Homo sapiens: one gene and its partners. The protein of the gene in region 1 interacts with the protein of each later gene in a pairwise test. Each region holds a gene or a part of one and is shown in the gene's direction. Other genes may lie near its edges. The genes, in order: NAB2, PSMA1, CCHCR1, KIF9, PHF1, NDOR1 and CWF19L2.

Region 1 (4,003 bases):
CAACAGCCCTCCCAGCCGTGGGCGGGAGTGCAATGCGAACCAGATGGGGCTAGGAGAAACCAAAGGGGGAGACGGTGGTGGGTTGCAGAGGCGGGGGCTAAGCTCCTTCAAGGCGCTCCTCCTTCCAGCTCCGCCGCAGGAAGTCACGTCGTAGGCTCCCGACCTCTTACTCATCTTCCACTAGACTCTCGGGCGAGGTCCCTAATAGACGGCCCCAGGAAGGGTATCGTCTTTGTCACACAAAATTCCCAGGCAGGGCCTCATCCTCAGCAAACAGAGGACAAGTGGAGGAATCCCTGCCTGACCTACGCGCTGACAAAAGCCGACGCGTCTAATCAACACGCGCACCTAAGTGGTGGCGTGCAGCATAACCCTCCCATTCCTGTTTCCCAAACTTTCCAGGCTAGCATGGAGGCCTGGGTTTCTGAGAGCGACCCCCTCAGATTATTCCATTGGGGCTGAGGAGGGGCGCGGGGATATCTAGGAGATCCCTGCAGAGCCCCACGCTCTCAGGCCCGCCTTAAGTGCACACTATACGGGAGTCAGATGCACGCACAGGAGAAGCCGCACAGCCCAGCCTTCGCTAACTTTTCCCGGCTCACTGCTAACATTCACACGTCCAGCACCACAAGGCCTGAGTATGGGCAACGGGCGTCCCCGTAGTTGTTTAGGCGCGTGTGCACGTCCGTGCGCTTCTGTGTCTTTGTGTACTTGTGCGTGGTTGTGAAACTCCTCTCTCAGCTCGGAGGGGTGGGGGAGAGAAGGAATGTCGCCGGCGGGGCGCTCACGTGGGTACGTGGGCGCCAAGAGGGCCGGCTGTGCATCCGGCGTGGGCGGCACAGAACGACCTCGCCCCGCCCGCTGGGTCCCCAAGCCCGCCCTGCACAGCCGGGCCTCGGTCACCTCGGTCCCCAATTCGGCGCCCCGGCTCTGAATCCCCGCCCCCGCCTCCTGCTCCACACCCCCTCCCCCCCCGTCTCCGCCTCTCCCAGTCTCTAAGCCGCGGCGTCTCCGCGGCCGAGAGGCCCCAGCGCCCGCCTCCCCGGCCCCCGCCCCCACCCCCGCCCCCGGCTCTGCCCACGCCCTCCGCCCGCCAGCCCGGCAGCCAGCGCAGCTCCGGGCCTCGCTCCCTGTGCGTCCTGCGGGGGCGGAGGCGCGGAGAGGCGGCAAGCGCAGCCGGGGAGGGTGGGGGGGCAGAGGCACAGACAGAGGCGCGGAGGCTCGGAGAGAGAAGACGTGGAGGGAGGGACAGAGCCTGGACAGCGGTGGACACGGCATCGTGCGCGGGGAAGAGGGCAGCACGCAGCAGGCGCCGAGCGCCGGGCACCGAGAAGGGCAGCCCGGGTGATCTCCGGCCGTCCATGCACAGAGCGCCTTCCCCCACAGCCGAGCAGCCGCCGGGCGGAGGGGACAGCGCCCGCCGGACCCTGCAGCCCAGACTCAAGTTAGTGGGCAAAGGGAGGCAGCGGGGAGTGGAGATGGGTGGAGCTGGACTTGGGAATGGGGTCCAGAGGGCGGAGGTCGAGGGGAGGACGTGGGGAAGCAGGACGGGGGTGGGGGGTGGAGACTGATGGAAAAGGGGGTGCGTCTTCGAATTAGGGGGCCCTGGGAGCAGGCAAGCATCTGATGAAGCTGGATATGAAAGAGTAGTACCCAAATCTCCATTCCTGGTTTACTCTGTGGGCTCCATCTGGCCTAAGAGCCCCCTGCAAAGAATGTGGGAGCCTCCAAGCACCAGGGGATGCCCTGGAGCTCGAGCTGGCATCAGTGCGGAAGGTGGGGGGACGCTCAGTTGCCTCAGTCCCTCGTTGGCACGGAGCGCGCGGGCCCCCGGTGCCTTTGAGTTAAAGGAGCATCAGCGGGGGAAAGGGGGGGTGACGAGGGAGGCAGGGAGGCCTTAGGCGTTCCTTCCCATATCTGTCCCTTTATTCACAGAGCGGGGAGGGGAGTTTCAGTGTGCAGCCCCTTCATCAAGAGGCCTTGAGCCGCTCCCCCACTCCACTTGAAGATGCGGGTGGAAAATATGGGAGAGGAGAGTAGGCGGGAGCCCCTGGGCGGTTTTCGCCTACAGACGCTACCACTGTGGGAGTGTGTGTGGGCGGAACGGCCCCGGAGCAGAACAATTGCGCCCCTCCCCCTGCCACGGCCCCTGAGCTGAAGGAAAAGGCTGACCGAGGAAGTGGGGAGTGTCACTGCTAGGAGAGGGGCCACTGAGGAGCACTGGGCAGCCTGGAAGGGTGGAGAGGTTCTGAGGGGAGAGAGGAAGCGTGCGTTAAGAATGCTTAACCAGGCCGGGCGGGCCCGGTGGCTCAGGCCTGTAATCCCAGCACTTTGGGAGGCTGAGGCGGGTGGATCACGAGGTCAGGAATTCGAGCCCAGCCTGACCAACATGGTGAAACCCCGTTTCTACTAAAAATACAAAAATTAGCCGGGCATGGTGGCGGGCGCCTGTAATCTCAGCTACTCAGGAGGCTGAGGCAGGAGAATCGCTTGAACCCGGGAGGCGGAGGTTGCAGTGACAGCGCCACTGCACTCCAGCCTGGGTGACAGAGCGAGACTCCGTCTCAAATAAATAAATAAATAAATAAATAAATAAATGCTTAACCCCTGGGAAAAGCTGAGCGGAGAAGAGTAAGGCACCACCTGGCTCACTGAGTGGGAAAGCCAGGGAAGGTGCCACACCCTCCCTTTTAGCCACCTGGGGCTGTGGCCCCTTCACAGGGAATGAAGCTGGCCAGCAGCGTCCACTGTGGGGGAGACTGGGCTCCTACATTCACTTTAGTATGGGTGACTTCACTTCAGTGTTGAGACTGCTGAGTGTTTAGAGGGGAAGGTGAGGATTGTGTTTTGGGGGAGAGGGAGGTCCAGCCATCCCAGGTCGGTGCTGGTCAGCCTCAGCGCTCAAGTTCTTCTTGCCCCAGACCAAAAAGATAAAAGCTGAAGATAAGGTTGTAAGACGCTTCGACTCCTACAGACACAGGCCACTGACTTTTGGGGCTTCGGGCCAGTCTAGGACGGCACTGGCTTGTCCATGCCTCTGAGCAGTGCCTGATTCTGAGAGTCTGTACTCAGACCTGGGCACTGGGCAGGATAGCATCCAAATGAGGGAGGGGAAGAAAAGCAGGCAGGAAAGAGGGAACAATTGTTAGTGTGGGTTGGTACCCAGTAGGGGGACTTGCACCGACTGCCTCTCTCTTGTGCCCCTCCTTCTCAGGCCCAGTGCCCGAGCCATGGCACTGCCTCGGACGCTGGGGGAGCTGCAGCTGTACCGGGTCCTGCAGCGCGCCAACCTCCTTTCCTACTATGAGACCTTCATCCAGCAGGGAGGGGACGACGTGCAGCAGCTGTGTGAGGCGGGTGAGGAGGAGTTTCTGGAGATCATGGCACTTGTGGGCATGGCCACCAAGCCCCTCCATGTCCGGCGCCTGCAGAAGGCACTGAGAGAGTGGGCCACCAATCCAGGGCTCTTCAGTCAACCAGTGCCTGCTGTTCCCGTCTCCAGCATCCCGCTCTTCAAGATCTCTGAGACTGCGGGTACCCGGAAAGGGAGCATGAGCAATGGGCATGGCAGCCCAGGGGAAAAGGCAGGCAGTGCCCGCAGTTTTAGCCCCAAGAGCCCCCTTGAACTTGGAGAGAAGCTATCACCACTGCCTGGGGGACCTGGGGCAGGGGACCCCCGGATCTGGCCAGGCCGGAGCACTCCAGAGTCGGACGTTGGGGCAGGAGGAGAAGAGGAGGCTGGCTCGCCCCCCTTCTCCCCCCCTGCAGGGGGAGGAGTCCCTGAGGGGACTGGGGCTGGGGGGCTGGCAGCAGGTGGGACTGGGGGTGGTCCAGACCGACTGGAGCCAGAGATGGTACGCATGGTGGTGGAAAGTGTGGAGAGGATCTTCCGGAGCTTCCCAAGGGGGGATGCTGGGGAGGTCACATCCCTGCTAAAGCTGAATAAGAAGCTGGCACGGAGCGTTGGGCACATCTTTGAGATGGATGATAATGACAGCCAGAA
Region 2 (3,005 bases), on another chromosome or scaffold:
TGTAGGTAGGTGTAATTTAAAATAGGTGGTTGAGGATATTCTCACCAAGAAAATGAAATTTGAGGAAAAGATATAAAGGAGGTAAGTGAGTATGAGCTATGCAGATCTAGAGCAAAATTATTCTAGGAAATACAAATGCAAAGGCCCTAGTATTTAAGGCAAGGAGGCCAGTAGTGTTGAGGTCAATCATCGAGAGGAAGAGGAAAAGGGAAGAAATCAGAGAGGTAATGGAGGTCCCATAAGCCATTGTGGTTACTCTGCATTTTACTCTGGGTGGGCTGTTAAGAGTTTGAGCAGAGGAATACCATGATTTGGTTTAGGTTTTAAAACAGTCACTCTGTTTGGCATTTTAACGACAGATTGAGGCTGGGCGCGGTGGCTCACGCCTGTAATCCCAGCACTTTGGGAGACCAAGGCAGGTGGATCACGAGGTCAGGAGATCAAGACTATCCTGGCTAACACGGTGAAACCCCATCTCTACTAAAAATACAAAAAATTAGCCGGGCTTGGTGGCAGGCGCCTGTAGTCCCAGCTACTCGGGAGGCTGAGGCAGGAGAATGGCGTGAACCTGGGAGGTGGAGCTTGCAGTGAGCTGAGATTGCGCCACTGCACTCCAGCCTGTCCAGCCTGGGCGACAGAGCGAGACTCCGTCTCAAAAAAAAAAAAAAAAAAACAACCGGTTTGTGGGCCAGCCGCAGTGGCTCACGCCTGTAATCCCAACACTTTGGGAGGCTGAGGTGAGTGGATCACTTGAGATCAGGAGTTCGAGACCAGCCTGGCCAACACGATGAAACCCTGTCTCTATTAAAAATACAAAAATCAGCCGGGCGTGGCGGTGCATGCACTCCAGCCTGGGTGACAAAGCAAAACTCCATCTCAAAAAAAAAAAAAACAGATTGTAGGGGTAGATAGATAGTGGGGCTATGGGTAGAAATAGTTTTAAGGCTATTCAGGTAATTATGTGAGAGATGATAGTGATTGCAGCAGAGTGACAGAGTTAAAGATGAAGAGTAGTGGTTCAATTTTGGATATCTTTTGAAATTACAGCCAAAAAAGTTTGCTAATAGATTTGTTATAGGGTGTGAGGGGGGAATGTCTCCAAGGTTTTGGGCCTAATTAATTGGAATGAAAGATTTATGATTTACTGAGGTGAAGAAGATAGTGGGAGGAACAGGTTTTAGAGTAGGCGTTGGGGAGGAAGGTCAGGCAGTCAGTTGCGGACATGTAAAATTTGAAATGCCTTTTTGTCTAATTGACGGTACAGAGTAAGCAGTTATAAGCAACACGTGGAGTTCCATGGAGAGTGGTCCAACCTACATTTCAAATTTTTGAAGTCTTTATATAGAAATGGCATTTAGAGTCTGGACTGGAAGAGATTCCTAAAGGAATTGAATAGTTAGACAAGCATTGTGAGGACTGGACCAAGAACACTAACCTTTAGCAACTGGGAGATGAGTTAGGTGTTGGCAAAAAAGACTGAGAGAGGTGGTCAAAGAAGTAGGAGGAAAACTTGGAAAATGAGGCATCTTTGGAGGCAAACGAATAAACTTTCAAGGAGGAGGGGCAATGAAGTTGTCACTGAGGACCTGACAAAACAGGCTTAATGGAATAATAAGGCAAAAACCTGATAGTGGAATCAGGAGAGAATGGGAGACGAGGAATTGCAGATAGCTTTTTGGAGGATATTTCTGTTGACGGTCACTCTGTCACTCTGCTCCAATCGCTATCATCTCTCACATGAATTACCTGAATAGCCTTAAAACTATTTCTACCCATAGCCCCACTATCTATTTACCCCTACAATCTGGGTTTTTTTTTTTTTTTTGAGATGGAGTGGTGACTGGAAGAGGAGAGAAATAAATTGTTTTGTTTTTTAAGATGGAAGAAATTACATCACATTTGCTGCATGATTGTGAGAGTAATCCAAGTAAATTTAGGGAAGCATTTATGAGGAAAAATAATGAGAAAATTGTTAGAACAATGTCCTTTAATAGTACATAGGTGGAAGGGTTGGCCTTAGGAAGTTTTAATGGGAAAGGAGAGAATCTAGGGACATAGGTACAGGAAAGAGTGGATACAGTGGGAACTTGTGAAAGTTCTCTTCTAATTGCTTCTGTTTTCGCAGTAATATAGGAACAAGGTTTTCAGCTTCAAAGAGCTTGGAGAATGTTAGAAGTGTCTAAAAGAAGGGGAGCATGAATGATGTAGAAATGGGTATAGTGGGATCCAGGAACCACTAAGGCCTACTTGAAGTTAATGATCATTAATAAAGTGAGATTAGTCAGTTTTATAAAGCCATTTTGTTATGGTGATTGGATAATTATTGTTTAATATCAATGTGAAGACTTTATAGCCTGCATTATCTTTTTAAAAAAATGTTTCTAGATAACATAGATCTTTGGAGTTACTCATGATAATCAAAAGTTAGTATTAATATTAAATCTGCAAATGACAAGGGTCCACTAGTTTCCTTCTTTTTTCTCCTACACATAAGTGGTTTTTAAGGTTTTATTCAAATGCTATATAAATTCTTATTCTGCTTTTTTCACCCAATATTTTATCGTATGTATTTTTTCATCCAAATTCTCTTATTTTACTTTTACCATATTTTACCCTTCAGAATGTTTCCATTGGAATTGTTGGTAAAGACTTGGAGTTTACAATCTATGATGATGATGATGTGTCTCCATTCCTGGAAGGTCTTGAAGAAAGACCACAGAGAAAGGCACAGGTATATAATCATAACACAAGAGGCTTTAGTTCTATTGTAAGCTGCTGTTCTTACCACAACTGTGTCTGTAAATTTTCCATTTTGTCTTAAATATTGAAATGGGCCCATAATTCAAATGGCAACAGGAAAATTAAGAACTGAGTAAAGTTAAATATTGAAAGGGCAGTGATCTCCATAAACACAAAAAGGGGGCCGGGTGCGGTGGCTCATGCCTGTAATCCCAGCACTTTGGGAGGCCGAGGCGGGTGAATCACGAGGTCAACAGATGGAGACC
Region 3 (2,932 bases), on another chromosome or scaffold:
TAGGGACGGGGTTTCACCATGTTGGCCAGGCTGGTCTTGAACTCCTGACCTCAGGTGATCCACCCACCTCAGCCTCCCAAAGTGCTGGAATTATAGGTGTGAGCCACTGCACCTGGCCTAGTCTATTTATTTAAAGCTATATACTTACTTGCTTATTATATACTTAACTTGCTTACTATTCCATCTAAAATGTAAGCCAGTTAGTTTCCTTCTAAATCAATTGCCAGCCTTTGTCTCTCCTACCAACTTCCTAGTTGTTTCATTACCTACAATTGTTGTATGACCTTCAGAAAAACCTCTAAGAAAACAGCAAAGCTTCTTTGTGCTGGTGATGACTTCCCCTCAGCCTTAGACACTGAGGTACCCAAGGCAGGTAGTTCTTTTTTTTTTTTTTTTTTTTTTTGAGACAGAGTCTCGCACTGTCACCCAGGCTGGAGTGCAATGGCACGATCTCAGCTCACTGCAACCTCTGCCTCCCGGGTTCACACGATTTTCCTGCCTCAGCCTCCTGAGTAGCTGGGATTACAGGTGCACACCACCACACCCGGCTACTTTTTTGTATTTTTAGTAGAGACAGGGTTTCACTGTGTTGGCCAGGCTGGTCTCAAACTTCTGACCTCGTGATCCGCCCGCCTCGGCCTCCCAAAGTGCTGGGATTACAGGCTTGAGCCACCGTGCCTGGCCGGCAGGTAGTTCTTAGCACAGTCTCTGGCTTGTAAATGTTTATTGTTATCGTGAGGCTCTTCTTGATGGGTTAATTTAGATAAAGATAATTTTTGGTTTAGCGAAATTAAGATGCAGGATGAGTCCTTGCCCATCACTTCCTTCTCTTGGATTTGTACCTTAGGGACTAATTTAGCTTTAAAAATTATGAAAAATTTCAAACTTGCACGGAATTAAACTAGTTATAATGACCTACCACCCAGGTTCAATCCATCGCGGGTGCCCCCTACCTCCAGGAGAACAGAAAGATGCACTGTGGACAGGGTTTGACTTTGGTACCAGGCGATCACAGAAATGGTCTGTGTAATGATGCATTTGCCGAAAGTCCTCCAGGCTTAAAGCAGTCCAAACTCTGATTGTTGCTGGGTTTATTAGATTGTCTCTAGGTAATTGGAGACTTTAATAAGGGCTGTGGTAGGTGTTGGAAGCATCTACTGGAACAATTTCCAGATCAAAGTGAACTTTGCTGTGCTGCTGGGGATGCAGCTGCAAGCCTTCATCATCATGTGTTTTTCTGTGGGTGCAGACCTGGACTCTCCTGAGGAAACCCCAGCCCGGCCCCAGACACTCCTTGGCCTCCTCCTGGGGCCTGTTTAAGCTGCTCAGTTTTCATGAGCCAGGTTGGTCCTACTTCTGGCACAGCCAGCTGGTAAAGCATGTGGACCTGCCCGTCATTGGTGCTAGATCGACACTCCTGGGCTTGGAGAGGATAACTTTGTTTTCTTTTGTTTTTTTGAGATGGAGTCTCGCTCTGTCACCCAGTCTTGAGGGCAGGGGTGCGATCTTGGCTCACTGGAACCTCCACCTCCTAGGTTCAAGTGATTCTCGTGCCTCAGCTTCTGGAGTAGCTGGGATTACAGGCATGAGCCACCATGCCCGGCTAATTTTTGTGTTTTTAAGTAGAGAGAGTTTCACCATGTTGGCCAGGCTAGTCTCCAATTCCTGACTTCAGGTGATCCGCCCGCCTCGGCCTCCCAAAGTGCTGGGATTACAGGCAGGAGCCACTGCCCCTGATCAGAGAGGATAACTTTACTCTTTGATACACGATAGTGAGCAAAACACAGTTGTGAGAAATAAGCTTAACAGGTTGCTTAAAAAGATAGTCATTTAATGCATTCTTGGGGCAAGGGTCCTTTAGATAATTGACGGAAGCTGTGCGTTCTGTACTTGTATAATGGGACAGGATTAGAGGGAGTTGTCTATACAAGGCACAGCAAGTCCTTTGGGAATGAGGGGAGGCATGGAGGATCAGTGACTTGTGCCCTCTCCAGCTCTCAGATCTGGCTCGAGACCACCATGGCTAAGGTGGAAGGGGCTGCCGCCCAGCTTCCCAGCCTCAACAACCGACTCAGCTATGCTGTCCGCAAGGTCCACACCATTCGGGGTGCGTAGGACAACTGCGAGCCACGTCCTGCCCCCACCCCACCAGCTCGGACTTTCTTCTTCCTGACCCAGCTCTCTCTGATCCCACATCCATTCACCTTCCTCCTTTCACCAGTCCTTGCATCTCTTTTTCCCTTACTCCCTGTCCCCACTTTCTCCCATGCAAACTTCATCTCTTTTTCTCCCTGCTTTTTCCCCTCCAGGCCTGATTGCTCGAAAGCTTGCCCTTGCTCAGCTGCGCCAGGAGAGGTGAAGTTTGGGCACTTTGAGGTGGATGGGGCTTTAGGGCATTGGCTGCTGGGACCCCCAAAACCATGAGGACTGAGGTGGGATGGGGGCTTTGGGATCAGGCAGCTGGGTGATTTCTTCTGACTCTTTCTCTTCCCCGTCCCAGCTGTCCCCTACCACCACCGGTCACAGACGTGAGCCTTGAGTTGCAGCAGTTGCGGGAAGAACGGAACCGCCTGGATGCAGAACTGCAGCTGAGTGCCCGCCTCATCCAGCAGGAGGTGGGCCGGGCTCGGGAGCAAGGTACACCTGGTTGCCAGGGGGTGGAGAGGATGAGGAAAAACCCGGTGTCTAGGGTGCTGGGAGAGGCCTGACCCAGCACCCCCTCCTTTTAGGGGAGGCAGAGCGGCAGCAGCTGAGCAAGGTGGCCCAGCAGCTGGAGCAGGAGCTGCAGCAGACCCAGGAGTCCCTGGCTAGCTTGGGGCTGCAGCTGGAGGTAGCACGCCAGGGCCAGCAGGAGAGCACAGAGGAGGCTGCCAGTCTGCGGCAGGAGCTGACCCAGCAGCAGGAACTCTACGGGCAAGGTGTCGAGAGGGAA
Region 4 (3,302 bases), on another chromosome or scaffold:
CCAAAGTGCTGGGATTAGAGGCATGAGCCACTGTGCCCAGCCTGGGTAACTTCTTTTTTTTTCCCCCACAAGATGGAGTCTTCCTCTGTCACCTAGGCTGGAGTGCAATGGTGTGATCTTGGCTCACTGCAACCTCTGCCTCCCAGGTTTAAGCGATTCTCCTTCCTCGGCCTCCTGAGTAGCTGGGATTATAGGCATGCGCCACCACTACCGGCTAATTTTGTATTTTTAGTAGAGATGGGATTTTTCCTGTTGGTCAGGCTGGTCTCGAACTCCCGACCTCGGGTGATCCACCCGCCTCGACCTCCCAAAGTGCTGGGATTACAGGCATGAGCCATCGTGCCTGGCATTCTTTTTCTTTTTAATTAAAAACAATTTTTTAAAAATAGAGACTGGGTCTCCCTATGTTGCTCAGGCTGGTCTTCAGTTCCTAGACTCAAGGGATCCTCCTGCCTGGGCCTTCCAAAGTGCTGGGATTACAGGCATGAGCCACTGCACCCAGCCTTTTTTTTTTTTTTTTGACAAGGTCTTGCTCTGTCACCCAAGCTGGAGGGAGTGCAGTGACACGATCATAGCTCACTGCAGTCTTGATATCCTGGGCTCAAGCAATCATCTCACCTCAGCTTCCCAAAGTGCTGGGATCATGGGCGTGAGCCCCTGTGCCCAGATAGTTATTTTAAATAAATTCTTATTTTATGCTTTTTAAAAGGCTTTATTGAGACAGAATTTGCATACCATACAATTCACCCATTTAAAATGTGCAACTCGCCAGTCACGGTGGCTCACGCCTGTAATCCCAGCACTTTGGGAGACTGAGGTGGGTGGATCACTTAAGGTGAGGAGTTCAGGACCAGCCTGGCTAACATGGTAAAACCCTGTCTTTACTAAAAACACAAAAACTAGCCGGGGATGGTGGTGCACACGTGTAATCACAGCTACTCAGGAGGCTGAGGCAGGAGAATCGCTTGAACCCGGGAGGCAGAGGTTGTAGTGAGCCGAGATTGCGCCACTGTACTCCGGCCTGGGTGACAGAGCGAGACTCCATCTCAAAAAAAAAAAAAATTCTAAATCATTAAGCAGAGGAGTCCTGTATTTCTACAGGTCAAAATTCTATTCTCTCATTCCCCAATCTCTATAATTCTCTGTGTTGGCCATTTTTAATGTTTAAGATATGCCCATGCACAGACTTTTTATGCAAATGTTATACTCGAACCATTCCATGTTCTTTCAATTCTATGTTTTAGTTATTTAAATATATACTTTTATATAGGAAACATATAGATCAGATTTTTCATGGTCAAAATCTGTTTCCTGTTTTACTGAGTCTCATGGTGGCTTGACAGTGGCGTGTGTATGTGTGTGTGTTTGTGTGTGTATTGAAATCGTGACCTTGTGTTTGATTGAACTTAAGCTCAAGGAGACCTGAACACATAAATAGAAATTATTTTCCCCCTGAAAAGGTTTGCACTTGCTTTCTGCAGTTACCCATGGGGCATTACCAACCCAGGACCATTTTAACCCTCTTCAAGAATTCCAGTTTAATATGGGAGCTTCAATTCAGACTCCTACTTTGTGGGGAACCTAAGATTCCATGTTCCAAGCTAGTTTTAGCGTTTGCTGGCTTACAGCCCACTGTTTCTGTTTCAGCCTACAGTTTTCACCTGCTTTCTAAGAGCCTAGTGATGCATTAAAAAGGTATAATTTGTGAACATCTGATTGATTGCAGTGGCAAAGAGAGGGCCCTTCTGAATACCTGGCCCCTAACTCCTCTGGAGATAGAACCCTCTTCTTTTCTTTCTGAACCTATTCCCTATCAGAAACTCCCAAGAATGCCCTTGAAACCTATATGCCTCCTTTCAAATATGCCTGCCAGACTGTTTTAAAATAGTTTTACACACTTTCTTTAGGATAAAAGAATGAAAGAGTTTGAATGGATGTTATTTCTCAGAGAATTGGGGCTACTCAGAAGGAATCCTTGTCCACAACCCATGATGTTTGCAGGAGGAATGATAGGGTGAATGTGAGTGGCCTGGTCTGAGTCCCTGCTATGTCTGTCCCTCCTAATAAGTTCCTGTTTTCTCTTCCCTCTGTGTCCAGCATAATTACTTGAAAACCATGATGGGCCTCCAGCAGGCACATAGAAAATAGAACCTCATCGCCAGTACCTTAAAGGACAAGACCAGCAACTCCCACCTACTGTAGTGGAGCTGCTCAACCACCTGCCCAGAGCTGCAGCCCCCTCTACTCCAATGCTGGGACCCAGCACAGAGAACACATTTGGCCTGCATGTTGGGAGGAGCATCCTCCAAGGACAACCTTGCTCATCTCCACAGAGCACTTTGGGTTTTAATTCACTGTCTTATATGCAGGGACAGGATAAAATAACTTTCTAGTTTGGACTTTCAGTGCTCATCTGAGAACTTTGTCTTATTTCCTGTCTGAAAGGACATATTCTCTATGTATGTGTGAGGTCAGAACTGAGTCTCAAGTAGGAAGGCAGAAAAGTAGCTCAGCCAGGCTCCTCCTGGCAGGCCTTTGTCACACTGGTCAGCCCCTTTCCTGGATAGACATCCTAGGGTGGGGGTGGTGAGCTCGGTCTGAGGAGCTCTGCTTCTCACAGCTCCCTCAGACCCTAAGTTCTCTCAAGACATCTTTTCTGTGTTTCTGAGCCAGTGAAGAAGACAGGAGGAGGCCCTCCTTCATTTGGCAACCAGGGGAGGATAAGGTCTAGCCACAGAGACCAGAAAGGGATGAGGCAGAGCTGGCTCCATGTACCAGGGAATAAATGAGCAGCTTCTGGGAGACATGTCCTCTGCATGTTTCCAGAACACCACGGCCTTCCCTACGCAGCATGCACGGCCACCAGGCACCAGGGTGCCTCCCCTCCCCGCTTTCTCTCTCCGTGTAGGCTGCACTGAGCAGAAGTGAAAGTGAACGATTTACCCTGAATAGGAACTGGGATCACTGTCAAGGCTGAGCAGGGAAGAGAGAAGATATCACTCTCTATCAAGTTACCAGGCTGCAGCTTGGGCCCTTGGTGGTGGCACCAAAGGGAAAGAGTTCATTACTTTGCTCAGAGAACAAACTCAGGCCCTCTGGGGCCTTCCAGGCTGACTGATACGCCCCTGGGTTGGTAAACCAAGTCTCCACTGAGCGAAAAGTTTCAGTGCTTCCTTGGAATTGTATCTCACCCCCTCTTCTGTTCTTATGGGTCAAGGCCTTGGCCTGACACTCTGTGGGTGCTCCCCCGTCTGACACCCTCATCAGGGCCTTGAGGTTTCTGTTATTCTTCCAACAGTGGG
Region 5 (4,099 bases), on another chromosome or scaffold:
GTGTGTGTGTGTGTGTGTGTGTGTGTGTGTGTGTGTGTGTCCCTATGTCTATGTATCGGGTGAGGGGTGGGAGGGTTGCTGGAGGGTGCTTTATTGGGTGGAGGGCACCATGTCCCAGGGCTATCAAATAAAGAATAGTTTGGTTTTTTTTTTAAATAAAGGTTTTATTAGCATTTGCCCAAGAAGGCAGATACTTTCATATCTGTAAAAGTGGGAGCTGTGATCTGTACCCTCTGCCAAACGTTTACGTGGGAGGCGGGAGCGGGGGCTGAGGGCTTCGTCTTTTCTCCCCTCTGCTATCACCGGTTCTGGACCTTGGCCTGGATCATCTTCCCCTCTGCTAATACCCCCTACCCCGTCCGTCACATCAGGGAGGTGTGCCCTCTAGCTATCCACGCCCCCTCCTTGGTCACTAGTTATAGGTAACTTTCACCCTTCCGCCGGCCACCCCAGCCCCAGGGAAGAACGTTCCTTTGGTGGGTGTCGGCAAATGGGGACCGGACCCCAGAGTCCAGAGGCGGGGCTAGCGCGCGCTCCCAAACTGTTGGCTCTTTCCTCCCGTCCCGCCCTTTCCCTGCCTTTCCGTTCGAACGGCTGGGGCTCTGCCCGCTCGCTGCCCATTGGCTGGCTCTCGGTGGCGTCACCGCCTTGGGTCCTCGCGCCCTTCGTCTGCGCCAGCCCTGGAAGCACGGGGCGGGACGTCCACGGGAAGCGGCGCGCACGCCCGCCGACTCCCTCGCGCCAACCGCCGACGGCCGCCGCCCGGTGAAGGAGGGGCTCAGTCCTCCCAGGTGCCGCGCGCAGGAGGGGACACGCGTGCGCAAAAGGGCGGTGGGTGGGGCGCGACTCGTCACGGGGAGGGCGGGGCGCGCGAGGGAGGAGGGCGTGGTGGGGGCATCGAGAAGGGTGAATGGAGGGCGGGGCTGTGAACTGGGGCCGGGGGGCGGGACTTGGAGTGACCATGGGGGGTGGGGCAGCTAACGGATGTGGCATGGGGCGGGGGACCAGGCCGGAGGCGGGCTGCCGGGAGGGGGGATTCCCTCGTGCCCCAAGGGCGAATCTCAGGTCGGAGGAAGGGGCTGAGGGGATTCCCTCTCCCACCGGGTCCGACTCTTCGCTCCCCAAGCCGCGGAGGGCCAGCCTCTTCTTCGGCGCCCTCCAGGCCTGTTGGAGGTGAGGGAGGTGGGGTGAGGTGGTGCCCGCCCCCCCCTCCGGCTCCTCCTTTCCCCCAGTCCTCCCCTCCCACCACCCTCCCCCCCAACCGGTCCGTCCCTCCCCTCCCTCCCTCCCCCCCGCCGCCTCCTCCTCCTGCCGCTGCCGCTGCTTTGGCTGCTGCGTCATACGCCCCAGAGCCGCCGGGACGGAGGGGCTGGGCCTGGGGACCCCCCGGCCTCCGCCTGCACGCCCCCCCACGCCCGGACGTGCCCTCTCCGCGCGGGGGACTCGCCTAGGTCTCCTACGTCTGCCCCTGCCCGGCTCCCGGCGGCCCCAGCTGTCACCGGTAAGGAGGCGGCAGGAGGCGCTGGTGGGGGGCAGGGAGCCGGGGGTCGGCGCGGGGCGCGGGCGGGAGAGCCTCGCCGCCTTGGCCTCGGGTCCGGGCTGGGCCGACACAAGTCCCTTCTCGGACTTGCCGTCCTGGGGAGTAGAGACCGGGACTGGGACACGCCCCCCTCCCGGGGCACTCAGAGAAGTTGTCTAACCCGGGGGCAGGGAGCCCCGAATTTGAGGGTGACCTGACATAACCTGGCACCAGGATGATTGTTCTTAATGAGACGCGCAGGCCTGGGGAGACAGCCGTTTCTGCTCTGGAAAACATCTCCAGAAAAGGTCCCAAAACACGTCTCTGGGCAACAGGACACCCTAATTATGATACCTCTAAACTGAGTAGCCTTTGCTTCTACAACCATAATTTCTCCTAAAATTTCAAGGCCAGTATATAATATCCCAGGAGAGCTCTGGAAGCTGGGAAACTAGCAACTAGGTTTGGGGTCGGGGGGAGGGCTGTTAGTTACCGAGAGGAGAGCCAGTCACTAGAGTTGGAAGAGGACTCAAAAAGCTGGTGATGGGTGCCCAGTGGTTTCCTATCAAGGTGTCTCAGGGATTTGGAGATGGGGGCACAGATACTTCATTCTTGATGGCAAAATAGGCAAAGAAAATGGGGAGGCTGGCCGGGCCCGGTGGCTCACGCCTGTAATCCCAGCACTTTGGGAAGCTGAGGTGGGTGGATCATGAGGTCAGGAGTTCGAGACCAGTTTGGCCAACATGGCCAACACCTCATCTCTACTAAAAATACAAAAATTAGCCAGGCATGGTGGCATGCGCCTGTAATCCCACCTACTTGGGAGACTGAGGCAGGAGAATTGCCTGAACCCGGGAGGTGGAGGTTGCAGTGAGCCAAGATTGTGCCACTGCACTCTGGCCTGGGCGACAGAGCAAAACTCCATCTCAGGAAAAAAAAAAAAAAAAGAAAAAGAAAATGGGGAAGGTTTCTCAGCATTCATAACCTTCTCCTCCCCATTTCTTTTCTGGCTAGGCCCCCCCAGGATGCAATGGCGCAGCCCCCCCGGCTGAGCCGCTCTGGTGCCTCCTCACTTTGGGACCCAGCTTCTCCTGCTCCCACCTCTGGCCCCAGGCCTCGGCTTTGGGAGGGTCAAGATGTGCTGGCCAGATGGACTGATGGGCTGCTATACTTGGGTACCATCAAAAAGGTAAGACCTTCTACCTCTGACCTTCTTCCTAGTTCCCTTATCTAATTCTGGTTCCCATTTCATCCTGTTTGCTCACCCATTCCAGGTGGACAGTGCTAGGGAGGTGTGTCTGGTCCAGTTTGAGGATGATTCGCAGTTTCTGGTTCTATGGAAAGACATTAGCCCTGGTAAGACTCTAGAGACCTGAGATTGCACATCCCATGGAAAACAAACCTGGCCTAGAGGGGCAGAAAGAGACTTAAAGGCAGGCCCTGTGACACTGTGTTCTCTCACAGCTGCCCTCCCTGGAGAGGAACTCCTCTGTTGTGTCTGTCGCTCTGAGACTGTGGTCCCTGGGAACCGGCTGGTCAGCTGTGAGAAGTGTCGCCATGGTGAGAGGGCAGGTCACCTGAATGGTCCAGCTTGCTCTTCCCTCCAGGATGGTCTCTATATCACCTGTCCTGGCCTTAGTCCCCAAGCCACTGCTCTGGCCAGGCTGCTTAGCCTTATCTTAGTCCTCATCCGCTTTCAGCCCAGGGAGAAGCAGCCATGGAAAGGGGTGGTATAACCTTTGCAGGCAGAAGATGGTTTAAATGCATCCTTTTCTAACCATATGACCTCGGACAAGTCCCTTAACCTCTAGGAGCCTCAGTTCCCTGACTTGTAAAATAAGGATAATGCACCCCCTCATCAAGACCATGGTCAGGGATTAAATGAGATGGGTAAAGACTATTCCTGTCCCAATACCAAGCACACACAGGTATGCAATAAGTGGTCTACTATTATCACTGCAGCTTATCACCAGGACTGCCATGTTCCCAGGGCTCCAGCCCCTGGAGAGGGAGAGGGCACATCCTGGGTATGCCGCCAGTGTGTCTTTGCGATCGCCACCAAGGTAAAGGCACTTCCCTGTTACCCTTCCTGTGGGAGCCTCCCATCCACAGCCTCTCCCAAGCCTTTTCCTCTCCCCACCCCTCTGAAGCCACCCACCTGTCCTGTCTCTGCAGAGGGGAGGTGCCCTGAAGAAGGGCCCCTATGCCCGGGCCATGCTGGGTATGAAGCTTTCTCTGCCATATGGACTGAAGGGGCTGGACTGGGATGCTGGACATCTGAGCAACCGACAGCAGAGTTACTGTTACTGTGGTGGCCCTGGGGAGTGAGTAATGAGAGGGGAGCAGACTGTGGAATGAATGATGTGGTGGTGGATCCCAGGAAATGAAGGAAAAAGAACAGGATGAGGGTAGCACTCAGGGGGATAGGAGGTAAGTTTAGGGTTTGGGACAGTTATGGGGAAGGGGGTTTCTGGAGGCCAGAAGTCCTGTGTTCCCCCTCAGGTGGAACCTGAAAATGCTGCAGTGCCGGAGCTGCCTGCAGTGGTTCCATGAGGCCTGCACCCAGTGTCTGAGCAAGCC
Region 6 (3,500 bases), on another chromosome or scaffold:
GGCAGAGGAGGGTGATGTCCCAGGAAGGAAGCTCCACGCAGGCCTGTAGAGCACAGCAGGGTCTGGCTCCTGTGGGCAGGGTGGGACCTGGTCTCCCTAGACGCTGGACCAGCCCTGCCTCCTCCCGGTGCCCATCATCCTGCAGGCTGGACCTGGGCCCTGCCTTTTGGTCAGATAGGTCCAGTTGTATTCTGCCCCCATCCTACCCACCTGCCTGTTCCCCTGAGACCCTCCCCTCACCCCCTGCTGTGGGGCTAGCCTAGAGGTCGAGGACTCTGACTCAGAGTTTCCTCCGGCTGTAGAACTTCTGGAGGTTTATATTCCGGAAGAACCTGCCCTCCACTGCCCTCTGTCAGATGGACTTTGCCGTCCTGGGCCTCGGGGACTCCTCATACGCCAAGTGAGTAGGGGATGGGACAGTGGGCGGACGGAACAGTTCTGGGGGTCGAGCAACAGGTGTGCTGGCAGAGGACCGAGACCAGCTTCCAGGGTCGGCCCCTGCGCGCCTCAGGGCCCTCGCAGTGGTACTGGCTTCTCCACAACGCTCCCTGGTGGGCACCCCAGGCTTCACGCTGCGGGGAGGGCACAGAGGGGAGCAGGCAGGGTGGCAAAGGGCTGGGCTCCAGCCACGCTGACGTCACACAGGCCTACCTGGCGCCGGTCCCCACTTTTACAAAAAGGCGTGCTGTGAAGTGTTGACGACTTTGAGCCTGGAGGAGGACCCCGTATGCTCCTGCCACCCCAGAGGCCACCTCTGCCTTTTCTCCTGGGCATTTTCACAGTGCTCCTCTGCACCCTAAGCAAGGAGTGGCATGTTCAGTGTGCAAATGGCATCTTTAGACCCCACAACGGTGAAAACCCCGACTGTCCACGTAGGGCCCAGGTCCGCTGAGCACCGAGCATCAAAAGCCGTTTGCATAGCCAGGTGTCAGTCATTTCAGATGAAAAAGAACGGGAAGATCGGAGACAGCTCCCCCCGGTTCTGCCGGGAGGTTTTGTTCCGTGCGTGACGTAGGTCCGTGCATGACGTTGTTTCCTGCGTGACGTTGTTCTGTGTGGGACACAGTGTTCGTTCAAGAGAGGGAGGGAGGCCGCTGCCGACAGCGTTCCCAGGGAGGAGCGTGACCCAGAGCCAGTCATGCCTCGGAACCAGAGTGAGAAGAGAAACTGACCCCCGGGAAGATGCCTGGCTCTCTCCCCAGCACAGAGTTTCTCAGCTGAGGAGTGACCCACATCTTGGCTGGGGGCCTGGAGGCCTCAGCTGCCTCAAGTCCCTGCCCAGGGATGAGGGCCCATCAGTGGGACGAGGCCGCCTGCTCCCACCCACACAGGCTCATTCTCTGCGAGCAGAGGACCTGCTGCTTGGCACCCTGGCAGCTGCCCTGGTCTCGGCAGCCCCTGGCGTGTGGAGGCCCTGCCCCCTCCTAGGGTGCGGCCAGCGTGGAGTGTGTTTTCCACCCGAGGGAGGCCCTCCCCAGGCTCCACTCTTCGCCCGGGCTCCACTCTCCCGGGTTCCACTCTGCCTGGGCACCACTCTCCGCCCGGGCTCCAGCCCAGGACCAGCCTCACTGTCTCCACAGGTTCAACTTCGTGGCCAAGAAGCTGCACCGACGGCTACTGCAGCTTGGGGGCAGCGCCCTCCTGCCCGTGTGCCTGGGCGATGACCAGCATGAGCTGGGGTGAGTCTGCGGGCGTGGTACCCGCCTCCACAGTCTGGTCTGGCCACACGCAGGGTCCGCTCAGGCCAGCGCACGTGCTCCCTCCCAGGCCCGACGCTGCTGTGGACCCCTGGCTGCGAGACTTGTGGGACAGGGTTCTGGGGCTGTACCCGCCGCCTCCGGGCCTCACTGAGATCCCTCCCGGAGTCCCGTGAGTGTGGGCCCCGGGTCACCCACAGGCGCAGCAGACCCAACCTGGCCTGGGGACCTCGCCCTGGGTCCCTCCCGTGTGGGTGGGCGGCCCCTGGGGAGTGGGTCCTGGTCTGACCAGCGTGCCCTCCCACAGCCTGCCCTCCAAGTTCACCCTGCTGTTCCTCCAAGAGGCACCCAGCACGGGCTCTGAGGGGCAGCGGGTAGCTCACCCCGGCTCTCAGGAGCCCCCGTCAGAGTCGAAGCCCTTCCTAGCACCCATGATCTCCAACCAGAGAGTCACCGGCCCCTCCCACTTCCAGGACGTTCGGCTGATTGAGTTTGACATCTTGGGCTCTGGCATCAGGTGGGGACTGCTGGGGACCGAGGAGGGCAAGGTGAGGTGGGCCGTGGGTCTGGGGTTCGGAGGAGGCTGGGCCGGGCTGCAGGGGATGACTTCTATCCGGGGCCCCGACATCCTCCCTGCGGCGTCCCCACAGCCCTGGTGGCTTCTTCCACACAGCTTTGCTGCTGGTGATGTGGTGCTGATTCAGCCCTCCAACTCGGCTGCCCATGTCCAGCGGTTCTGCCAGGTGCTGGGCCTGGACCCTGACCAGCTCTTCATGCTGCAGCCGCGGGAGCCAGGTGAGCCCAGCCTCGGCCACCCTGACTCTCTGCCCTCTCCCGTGCCCTGGGCCCCCACCCCAAGGGCTCCGCCGCAGCCCACGGAGGCCTCCCACTCACCCTGCAGATGTCTCCTCCCCCACGAGGCTGCCCCAGCCCTGCTCCATGCGGCACCTCGTGTCCCACTACCTGGACATCGCCAGCGTGCCTCGCCGCTCCTTCTTCGAACTCCTGGCCTGTCTATCCCTCCATGAGCTGGAGCGGGAGAAGCTGCTGGAGTTCAGTTCTGCCCAAGGCCAGGAGGAGCTCTTTGAATACTGCAACCGGCCCCGCAGGACCATCCTGGAGGTGAGATGGGAGGGCGGCAGGCCCAGCCCCTGAGCTACAGCCACGCTGCAGCCACCCTGAGACTCTCTTTGCCTAGGTGCTCTGTGACTTCCCGCACACAGCTGCCGCCATCCCTCCCGACTACCTGTTGGACCTCATCCCCGTTATCCGGCCGAGGGCCTTCTCCATCGCCTCCTCGCTGCTGGTGAGGGGCCTGGTGGTTGGAGCCCAGGACCGGCCCTGGGAAAGCTGGGACCGGGGCTGTGGGGTTTTGTAAGCAGGGGCTGCCCTCTGACCAGGTGACGTTCCCCCAGTCGGACTGCCTCTGCGGGAGGTAGGTGGGGCCCACGGCCCAGGCACAGGTGAGGGCAGCCTTGTTCCACCACCCCCACCCCGCCGTCCTCCCCAGACTCACCCCTCACGGCTGCAGATCCTCGTGGCTGTAGTGCAGTTCCAGACTCGCCTCAAGGAGCCCCGCCGGGGCCTCTGCTCCTCCTGGCTGGCATCCCTGGACCCTGGGCAAGGTGACCCCTGCTCCCAGGGTGGGGGCCGTGGGCCCATATCCCCTTCTCTCCCATGCTCATGCAAATGCTGGGCTAGGGCCCCAGCAGACTCAGCACAGGTCTTTGATCCTCTTCATGCCACCTCCTTCCTGCAATAGGACCTGTCCGGGTGCCCCTCTGGGTGCGGCCTGGGAGTCTG
Region 7 (3,500 bases), on another chromosome or scaffold:
AAATAAAGCCAAAATTTTCCCAGTATTTTTCTGGTAAGAAGTCTCAGTTATATGATTTATTGATAGTGCATATATTATAGAAGGTGTGTTAAGATTTCCTGAAAGATTTTATTTATTTAGACATATTCTTGGTCTTATTTCATCAGAGATTGAAAGTTTTTTAGAATGTGGTTTATTTTTTTTCTCTCAGAATACATCCTTTTAAATTAAGATGAAATTAAATTATTTTCTTGCCTGTTCAAAATGATTGTAGGAACACTCTGTGAAGAAAAAGAAGAAAAAAGACAAGCATTCAAAAAAAGCAAAGAAAGAAAAGAAAAAAAAGAGCAAGAAACAGAAATATGAAAAAAACAATGAGTCATCTGATAGCTCATCAGTAAGTATGTACTAAAATTAATCAAAGCAGCTATTTGAGAACATTTTATTTGAATGTGTAACTTATGGGAAGTTAAAATACAAGAAAACGTAAAAAATATATTACTAGTTATGATATGAAAATATCTGGGATACATCTACTTAGAGATGTCCAGAAAATATTGGAAATGTTGATCTTGAATTTCAGAGAAAGGCTAAGAGGATAGGGATATGATTTGGGAATTATTGCTAAGCACAGCACTGGATCTTGCCCAAGGCCTGCTGTAACAATTACCTGGCTACAGCTGGTGTTCACTCAAGGCCCTGGGGCTCTGCAATCAGCAGGTGATGAAGCCAGCCAGGCCTGCGTCTTTCCCTTCAGGGTGGCAAGTTCCCCCAGGCCTGAGGGTGGGTCCAGAGGTGCCATCAGGGACCCAGGTACTGGCGTCAAAAACCTTAGACTTGTACCTGGTGTTCTATTGAACTGTGGCTGAGCTGGCATTCAACCTATGAATGGCAGTCCTTCCCACTCTTCCCTTTTCACAGGCAGAGGGGCCTCACCCTGTAGCCACCACCATAGACCCACAGGTAGTACTGGCAGGCTACCACTGATGTTCCCTTAAGGCCCAAGAACTCTTCAGTCAGCTGCCCGGCCTGGGACTCACCCTTCAGGGCAGTGGGCACCCCCTGGGCCAGGGCAGATCCAGAAATGCTATCCAAGAGCCAAGGCGTGGGGCTGGAGACCCCAAGATCCCTCTTGGTGTTCTACCACCCTGTGGCTGAGCTGGTACCTAAGGCGCAAGACAGAGCCCCCTTTACTTTTCTCAAGCAGAAGGAGGCTCTCCCCATAGCCACCACAGCTGGGAATGTGCTGAGTCTCACCTGAATCCAGCAAGTCTCAGATACACAGTGAAGGCCACAGTGTAGTACCCGATTATTGGTGCTGGTTATTCAGGGCCTAAGGGCTCTTTAGTGGTTACCAGCTATGGCTGAGCTGGTATTCAAGATGCAAGATGGAGTCCTGTATTTACTCTTCTCTCTCCTCTCCTCAAGCAGAAGGACAGGGTCTCTTTTGGAGCTGCACATTGTGCAGCCTTGGGTTGGGGGAGAGGTGGTGTAAGCACTCCCTTAGCTGCACCAGTTGCCCCCCAACCACCTGTCCATTGGCTCTGAGGCAAGTTTAGCACTAGGAGTCACCAAGGAATTCCACATCCTTGCTAGTACTTGGTATTGTCAGTCTTAGTAATTTTTAGCTATTCTACTGTGTAATGTCTCGTGTGATATTTCTCTGAAGAACAAGGATGTAGAGCATCATTTTAAGTCCCCATAGGGCATTCCATGTCTTTGTGAAATCTGATTTATTAAATATTTTCTTTTTTGTTTTTCATCATTTTTTCTTAGTGCTTCTGGTATCCTAATTTTTGCGCACCTCAAGATTGTGATTTCTCCTATGTTTATGTTATTATTAAATTTTTTTGTTTTTTGTTTGTTTTTAGAGATGGAGCCTCACTATGTTGCACAGACTGGAGTGCAGTGGCACCATCATGGCTCATTGCAGCCTCAAACTCCTGGGCTCAAGCAATCCTGCTGCCTTAGCAGCCCAATTAGCTATGACTACAGATGTAGTACAGAAAAGTTGTTTTTGTAGACATGGAGTCTTACTATATTGTCGAGGCTGGTCTCGAACTCCTGGGCTCTAGTGATCTCCTGCCTCAGCCTTCCAAAGTGCTGGGATTACGGGTGTGAGCCACCATGCTTGGCCTCCTATTTTTTTTCCCTAGAAGTTTTATAGCTTTGGCTTTTTTGCTTATTTATAATCCATTAATAATTTTTATTTATGTTGTGTAGTGTCAGTTTATTTTTTTCCCACGTGGATTTCCAGTTTTTCTAGCATCATTTGTTGAAAAGGCTGAATTTTCCCTATTGGAAGGAATTTAGGGAGATAGATATGTTAAAATATTCTTTCAATCCATTATGCACTTGGTACATCTCTCTATCCATTTATGTCTTTGATTTTTCTCACAATGTTCTGAAATTTTTAGTGTAGAGATCTTACATGTCGTTTGTTATTTTTTTTCCATTTTGTTTTCTGGAAGTGCTATCGTGAGTGGAATTTTAAATTAAATGTGTTTACAGCTAGTATGTAATTATAGAAGTGACTTGAAACATTAGGATCAGAAAAAAAAGAAAAAAGTGAAAAAAAACCTGCTTTTGATATATTCACCTTGCCTCTTATCACCATGTTAAAATTACTAATACTAGTGTTAGTAGCTTTTTTAGTAGATTTCTTAGGATTTCTAGGTAAATGGTATGTCATGTGTGAAAAAGACTTTTACTTTTTTCTTTTCAGTCTCTGTGCCTGTTTTATTTGTTAATTGTTGTTGCCTTATTTCAGTAGCTAGGACTTAAAAATAGTGTTGAATGGAAGTGGTGAGAGTGGACATGATTGCCTTTTTCCTTATCTTAGGTGCAAAGCATTCAGGTTTTTACATTTAAGCATGATGTCTGCTGTGGGACTTTCATGTATGCCTTTTCAGATTAAGGAAATGACATTTTATTTCTAGTTTTCTGAGAGTTTGTATCTTGAATGAGTATTGAATTTGGTAAGTGCTTTTTTTGCATCTATAAGTGTTAAAATTTGCCAGTGAAACGGTTTGGTCCTGGAGTTTCTTTGTGGAATGGGTTTAACGACAGAGTTAATTCCTTTAATAGTTGTGTTAAATACTTTCTGTTTATTCTTGAGTTAGTTTTAGTAATTTCGGTTTTTCTGGGAATTTATTCCATAGAAATTGTCAAATTTATTGTCATAAAGTTATTTGTAATATTTCCTTTGTTCTTTTAATGTTTACGGAATCCATAGTGATACCCCTCTTTCATCCCTGATTTTGGTAATTTCTATTTTCTGTTTGTTTCCTCTGTCAGTCTGTCTTGAGGCTTATCAGTTTTATTAATCTTTCTTTATTGCCTTTTAGTTTCCTTGAATTTTCTCTGGTTGTGTGTTTTCTATTTCATTGATTTAAACTATATTTATTCTTTGCGAATACTTTGTGTTTAATTTGCTCTTCTTTTTCTAACTTTCTAAGATGAATGTATCGCCACTGATTTGAAATCTTTTCTAACGTGTATTTATTTTATAAAATTTTCTC

The links.
Region 2: the proteins of NAB2 (region 1) and PSMA1 interact in binary tests that used the Homo sapiens proteins (3 or more experiments, as listed by UniProt).
Region 3: the proteins of NAB2 (region 1) and CCHCR1 interact in binary tests that used the Homo sapiens proteins (3 or more experiments, as listed by UniProt).
Region 4: the proteins of NAB2 (region 1) and KIF9 interact in binary tests that used the Homo sapiens proteins (3 or more experiments, as listed by UniProt).
Region 5: the proteins of NAB2 (region 1) and PHF1 interact in binary tests that used the Homo sapiens proteins (3 or more experiments, as listed by UniProt).
Region 6: the proteins of NAB2 (region 1) and NDOR1 interact in binary tests that used the Homo sapiens proteins (3 or more experiments, as listed by UniProt).
Region 7: the proteins of NAB2 (region 1) and CWF19L2 interact in binary tests that used the Homo sapiens proteins (3 or more experiments, as listed by UniProt).

Annotation. Positions count from the first base shown.
Region 1 is NC_000012.12:57,087,911-57,091,913, forward strand, and holds the start of NAB2 (NGFI-A-binding protein 2), read left to right. Parts: upstream 1-1,203; 5' UTR 1,204-1,361; coding exon 1,362-1,444; intron 1,445-3,214; coding exon 3,215-4,003. Other genes in the region: NEMP1 (nuclear envelope integral membrane protein 1), read right to left, coding at 1-174. UniProt on the Homo sapiens protein: Acts as a transcriptional repressor for zinc finger transcription factors EGR1 and EGR2. Isoform 2 lacks repression ability.
Region 2 is NC_000011.10:14,507,382-14,510,386, reverse strand, and holds part of PSMA1 (proteasome subunit alpha type-1), read left to right. Parts: intron 1-2,620; coding exon 2,621-2,731; intron 2,732-3,005. UniProt on the Homo sapiens protein: Component of the 20S core proteasome complex involved in the proteolytic degradation of most intracellular proteins. This complex plays numerous essential roles within the cell by associating with different regulatory particles.
Region 3 is NC_000006.12:31,144,871-31,147,802, reverse strand, and holds part of CCHCR1 (coiled-coil alpha-helical rod protein 1), read left to right. Parts: intron 1-1,994; coding exon 1,995-2,107; intron 2,108-2,309; coding exon 2,310-2,355; intron 2,356-2,500; coding exon 2,501-2,637; intron 2,638-2,729; coding exon 2,730-2,918; intron 2,919-2,932. UniProt on the Homo sapiens protein: May be a regulator of keratinocyte proliferation or differentiation.
Region 4 is NC_000003.12:47,227,498-47,230,799, reverse strand, and holds the end of KIF9 (kinesin-like protein KIF9), read left to right. Parts: intron 1-2,097; coding exon 2,098-2,148; 3' UTR 2,149-2,802; downstream 2,803-3,302. UniProt on the Homo sapiens protein: Essential for normal male fertility and for progressive motility of spermatozoa.
Region 5 is NC_000006.12:33,409,715-33,413,813, forward strand, and holds the start of PHF1 (PHD finger protein 1), read left to right. Parts: upstream 1-1,299; 5' UTR 1,300-1,501; intron 1,502-2,533; coding exon of another isoform or gene 2,534-2,549; coding exon 2,550-2,708; intron 2,709-2,793; coding exon 2,794-2,875; intron 2,876-2,983; coding exon 2,984-3,079; intron 3,080-3,481; coding exon 3,482-3,582; intron 3,583-3,694; coding exon 3,695-3,843; intron 3,844-4,021; coding exon 4,022-4,099. UniProt on the Homo sapiens protein: Polycomb group (PcG) that specifically binds histone H3 trimethylated at 'Lys-36' (H3K36me3) and recruits the PRC2 complex. Involved in DNA damage response and is recruited at double-strand breaks (DSBs).
Region 6 is NC_000009.12:137,212,200-137,215,699, forward strand, and holds part of NDOR1 (NADPH-dependent diflavin oxidoreductase 1), read left to right. Parts: intron 1-302; coding exon 303-400; intron 401-1,580; coding exon 1,581-1,679; intron 1,680-1,767; coding exon 1,768-1,869; intron 1,870-2,004; coding exon 2,005-2,214; intron 2,215-2,370; coding exon 2,371-2,492; intron 2,493-2,598; coding exon 2,599-2,819; intron 2,820-2,895; coding exon 2,896-3,003; intron 3,004-3,207; coding exon 3,208-3,322; intron 3,323-3,459; coding exon 3,460-3,500. UniProt on the Homo sapiens protein: NADPH-dependent reductase which is a central component of the cytosolic iron-sulfur (Fe-S) protein assembly (CIA) machinery.
Region 7 is NC_000011.10:107,451,326-107,454,825, reverse strand, and holds part of CWF19L2 (CWF19-like protein 2), read left to right. Parts: intron 1-253; coding exon 254-376; intron 377-3,500.